Regions from separate parts of the Homo sapiens genome. Here region 2 is linked to region 1. A link means that fine-mapping ties the variant in region 1 to the expression of a gene that starts in the linked region. Tissue or cell type: whole blood. Region 1 holds a variant in brackets; the other region holds the start of a gene. All regions are shown on one strand. Distances are between the middles of the regions.

Evidence for each region. PIP is the estimated chance that this variant, and not a neighbour inherited with it, causes the effect.
Region 2: it holds the start of PLXNA4, and the variant in region 1 is fine-mapped to the expression of PLXNA4 in whole blood (TOPMed, PIP above 0.99). The same link has a PIP of 0.9 or more in blood mononuclear cells.

Annotation. Positions count from the first base shown.
Region 1 is chr7:132,754,580-132,757,261 of GRCh38, reverse strand. No RefSeq gene overlaps it. Among named protein-coding and RNA genes, the nearest start is that of FLJ40288, 110 kb to the right of the region's middle. The variant G/A (reference allele first, on the strand shown) is at 1,497.
Region 2 is chr7:132,575,234-132,577,915 of GRCh38, reverse strand. It overlaps PLXNA4 (plexin A4), which reads left to right and starts at 1,446. Exons shown (of 32, transcript NM_020911.2): 1 at 1,446-1,494. RefSeq lists enhancers at 1,007-1,984, 1,985-2,682.

The DNA.
Region 1 (2,682 bases):
CTGGATGAATAGACTGAAGTAAAAAAAAAAACCTATGTGATGGAATTTTCTCCTCTTTGTTTTCTTATTTCTGGTGGCTTAAATACTGTGTTTAGTTTAAATACAGACATGATCCGACCACAAACATTATGGGCGTAAAAGCCAACACAGCCGACTCCATAGAGAGACTGTTGCTTTCAGGTATGAAATAAAAATAGTGTTTGCTGCATCTCCAGGTGTTCCTGTCTCTTCTTGGCATGTGTCACCTCACTCCTCCACAGGACTTCTCTGGGAAGTTAGTTTACTCCCATTTCAGAGAGGAGTAATCGGCAGAGGAGAGTTTAAAAGGCTCAAGGTCACAGACAATAAGTGACAAAGTTGAGATGAAAAGCCACATGGCACATATTAGCTACAAGCAGGTCTAGCCTTGGTTCCTGAACCCAGAGGCAGGGCTGAGAAGAAGGACTGGGTTCATGGCCTCCTAAATAAAGGAAGTGGTAAGGGAAGTCTGGGCCACTGGGCTAGTCTTTGTTCTGATGTTGAAGGAGGAGCGTTTGAAAGGTAATCGTCTGTGTCGAGTGCATTCCACTCCTGTGCTGTGTCTCCTGGCCCTTGGATACTAGGTGTCTCTGCCCTCATGGCTAACAGGTGGGAGAGAAGGTGCTGAGTTCAGCTGCCAGGACACCCTGGGGACAAGTGTCCCTGATCCACTGGACCCCTTCAGCATTTGGGAAGATGAGATTTTCATCTTGAACATCTGGTATTGGCCGATTGGCAGGCTTTACACTGAATCTCTGGCGGTCTGCACCTGGCCTCTCCCAGTGTCTGGAAGACACTGTGTGTGGGGCTGACCTAATCCTTGGGAAATAAGTGAGTGCTAGTGGCCTGCCTGCCTTTTTTTTTTTTTTTTTTTTTTTTTTTTTTTGCAGCCTGGGATCAGAGCCAGGGCTGGTGCAGCTGTGGGGAGCTGGCAATGCCATTCTTGTCCACTAAGCACTGTGGATGCCATTGTTATCCACAGGGCACTGTGGCACTTGGAGATGAAAAAGATGAAGTCCCTGCCTCCCCCATCGAACTTCCCAGGGTAATGCTGGGCTGGAGAACACAGGGTCTGGGCCTGCTCAGGCAGGTTCTTTGGGAGCAGAGGGCAGAAGGGCCCTTTTGCTACTGGGGAAAATGGCTGAGGCAAGGTAAGGCAGAGGTGAAGCAGAGGCAATGGGCCTCTCCAGGCCTCTAGAACCAGACTCTGCAATGTCTGGAGCATGGCACCCCCCCAGGTGACTTATGGAATCTCTTCAGCTTGTTTTACATCTCTGTGACTTTTGCAGGGTTCAGATGGCATAAAGCTGTTGGGCTGGCCAATTTCTTGGGGTCTCTTTTCTTCTGTGGGCAGGGTTGGCACCTGGTAACTCCCTGTGAAAGCAGAAGCATCTCTTCTGCCACTGGTCTCTTTCGAGGTCAGGTCTTGGAGCCTTGTTAAAGGGCAAATGCCATCTGGCAACATTATTTGTTGTAAC[G/A]CCTTAGTTCCTTCTCTTTGCTTCTGTGGGTGGGGTTGGCACCAGGTAACTCCCTATGAAAGCAGAAGCATCTCTTCTGCCACTGGTCTCTTTTGAGGTCAGGTCTCGGAGCCTTGTTAAAGGGCAAATGCCATCTGGCAATGTTATTAGTTGTAATGCCTTAGTTCCTTCTACAAAGTGAATTTGCTACTTCCCTACCAGGACCCTGGGAGGGCGAGACTTGGGACAGGTCCTGTCTTAGCAAGATGGGAGATGGAGGGAAGAGAGCTGAGAAGGACCCTGGCCATGTGCCCTGTTCCTTGTGGAGAAAGGGAATTTGCTGGAGGACCTGGGCAGATGATAAGCTGGGGCTGGAAGAGTCCTCATGCCTTGTGCATCTTCCCTTGGCTAATTTTAATCTGTATCCTGTAGCTGTAATAAACCATAATTGTGAGTATAACAGCTTTTAGTGAGTTCCATGAGTCTGTCTAGTAAATTATCAAACCTATGGGTAGTCTTGAGAACCCGTCAAACCTTACAGTTGGCGTCAGAATTGAGGGTGATCTTGCGGATGACTGAGATGACTGTTTCTTCAATTACACAGGTGGGTAGAATCATTTACCACCTGAACGCCTTTTAAATGCTGGCTTATGTGCCGAAGCTAACTGACCATAGACAGAGAAACTAGATTGAACATGAGAATCTAGGAAACAGTTCTTGGAACACAGGCTTTTAGCAGCAGGCGTCACAGAAGCTCCCCATGTGATGGGCCTTGGGAGCCTCCAGTGTGGTGACTACCTGAGAAAGCTGGGCTCTGGCGGAAGCACTCACTGCTGCCAGGATGAAGGGAAATCCTAAGTGAAATATGCAAGTTATGATGACCGTAGTAGGTTCTTGTTTGAGGGAGGACTCTGATTTCCATGGTGAAATGGGCACAGCATCTGGGTGGAATAGGGGTGGAAAGATGGGTTGGTAACAGGGAGCCAGAGAAGGAACAGAAGATGAGTCAGAAGCCTGGGATTTTGATCCTAGTATTGCTGCAAACTGGTCATGACCTTGGGGAGGTTAATGATATTGTGGGTCTCCTCATTTGGTGCCTTGAATGTGGGAGCCCATATAGTTGATGGGGCTATGGAGATAGATTCAAGGAGGATCATGGAAGAGAATGTACAATTGGGTACCTTCTCTGCCAAAGGCATGCTGGGGC
Region 2 (2,682 bases), 180 kb after region 1:
GGCCTTGTGCCCTCAGTGTCCTCGGCCTCCTTGGGTGCCATGTGGGGGTGACTTGGTGGGGTGTTGGGAGGGGTTCTGACTAGCAATGGGTGTATGCCTCAGAGTCAGTGTGCGCTTGTGTCAGCTCTGAGCACCTGAGGGTCCCTCCGACGGCCAGCGCCCAGAGCTGCAAATTCCGAGGCGGCTGAGCGCCTCCCTCTGAGCGCGCGCCGTGCGCTCCGGTCACCCATGTATGCCCCTCTCTCCGCCCCACATCGCCACCGCCAGGGTAGCTCCGTGCGGGCCGAGGGGACCCAGGGGGGTGTCGGCAAACGTTGGTGCGGAGGAGAGCCGGCAAGCCGGGCGGCGGCGGGTGGGAGCATGTAGGGAGGCGCCCCCTGCCCCCTCTGCCGGCCGCTCTCCCTCGCTCTAGATGTCAGCCGCGAGCTCCGAGCCAGCGAGAGCGAGCCAGAGAGGGAGCGGCGGCGGGCGGCGGGCGGCAGGGAGGAGAGGAGGCGAGGCGAGGGAGGGAGGAAGGGAAGCAGGGAGGGCGGGAGGGAGGAGAGGAGGACCCAGAGAGCGCCAGGCAGCTGGAGTTTTTGCAGCGCTTGGCCGGGCTTCAATGCACAGCAGCAGCGAGCCGCGGCGGCAGCAGGCAGCCCGGGAGCTCCGGCGGCGGCCGAGCCAGCGGCGGCCCCGCTCCCTGCCCCCTGCAAACTTTGCGAGCAGCCCGCCCGGGGGGCCGGGGGCGCGCCCGGGAGGCCCGGCTCGGCCCGCGGCCGAGCTCTCCGCCGCCGCAGCGCCAGCCGCCGCAGCCACCACCGCCGCAGCCCCGCGCCTCCCCGGGGAGCAGCCGGCGGCTCCCGCGGCCCCCCAGCCCCGGCCCCAGGGCACTGCCCGGCGAGTGTCTCGGCAAGGGTGGGGGCTGCCGCGGCGCGGCCGGCCGCGGGCTGCCGGGGGGCGGCCGCCGCTACCCAGAGAGGCGCGCAGAGGCGCCGAGAGCGCTCCCCGGCGGGTCCCCCGCGCACTCGCCGCGCCCGGGCAGCGGCCCGACCGGGCGAGCATGGGCGGCGCGGAGTGACGCCGCTGTGCCCGCTTGGCATCAAGGACATTCAGCCCGCGGGGGTGGGGACGAAGGGGGGCAGCCCGGCGTCGCCACCGCAGCCCCCGAGAGCCGCCGCCGCTGCTCGGGCTCCGGGGCTGGGTGGAGGAAAGGGGTGTTCGGAATCGATCCCCATTTTCCGACCTTTTTGTTGGACATTACGCCCACCTTGGACGCCGCAAGAGAAGCTGTCAAGCCCCGCAGGCTCTGATTCGGCGCCCTCCGCGTTCCTCGGCTGCTCCCGGCTTCCCTGTGCCTCGGTGGAGTATTTGCGTTCGGGGCTGGGGCTGGAGGAGGCAGCCACACGCGCGCACACGCACACGTTCAGAGGAGGGCGAGAGGCAGCGGCATAGGCTCCATCTGCAGTGTCAATGCGGCGCTCCCGCTGAAGGAGGGAAACGCGGCGCGTCCAGGTAAGGAGCCGGCCCGCCGGGGAGTGGGGCCGGGCGGGCGGCGAGGGCAGCAAGGTCGGACAGACCTGGGCCGACCCGGGAGTCCTCAGTGTCCCGGAGCCAGCCCGCGGCACACGCACACGCACACACGCAGGCACACACACAGATCCACACCGGCACACACGGCGCTCGCGCACCTGCCCACGTCCCACCTGGACGCCCGCGGAGGTGCAGCGGCCGGAGCAGGGATTTCCCGGGTGTGTTCTCCTCTCACGCTCCTGGACTCAGACTTCTCTTTCCCGGGACTTTCGGGGTGGGATTCTGTGTATTCCCGGCTCTGCCTCCCACCCGGGGAGGTTGAGGGAGCAATTTTTCAGCTCCCAGCCCCTTTCGTCCCTAGCTGGGCTTTAAAATGGGAGAAGTCCTGAGAGGTTTCCGGAGACCTACCCAGTGTCATCGCGGCCCCGTGGCCTTTGGACACCCTGGGATTTCAACGGGAGACAGACCCACAGATATTCGGACGCATATTTGGAGAGAGTGGTGGCCCAGCGCCCGGGGAGGAGGCCAGATAGGCGGTTGGGGCTGCAGTTCTGTAGGGCGGCGCATATGAAACAGACACTGCGTTTCCCCAGTAAGAGGCAGCACAAACGCCTTTCTGAAGCGTGGCACTGCTTCCCCGGGAATGCGCCGAGATTTCAGGCAGAAAGCGGCTTAAAGCATCGCCGCGTATGTTGCTTGTCTAGGGAAGGTACGGGGGTCAGATCCTCCTTAAAAGGTAAGACCTTATTCACAGCCTCAGTGCCTGCTTAGCAGCAAGCAGACAGGACTTGGAGACACAGGACTTGGGTCCCCTCTCACCTCCCTACCCTCCCTGGGCACATGGGGCTGCCTTCCCCGGTGCCTCCGGCTGGCGAACACCTGTCACATGCCTTTCGTGGTGTGTGTCTGAGAAAGAGAACTAGAAGGGGGAAGCACGAGGGATATAGTCCTCCAAAAGAGGAGGCTCCCCTCCCTCACGACCGTGGCGGCACTGCCCACCGGAGAAGGCAAGGCATTCGTGGGTCTGCCAGCGTCCCCCAGAGCCCAAGCCTGCTCCGATTGTAGAATCACTCCCCAGACGCCCGTGCTTTAAGGTCCTATTTCCCGAAAGCATTTTCATTCTTGTTCTCTCTGGCTGGAATTTCACAGGCTGCTCATTTTAACTTTTTC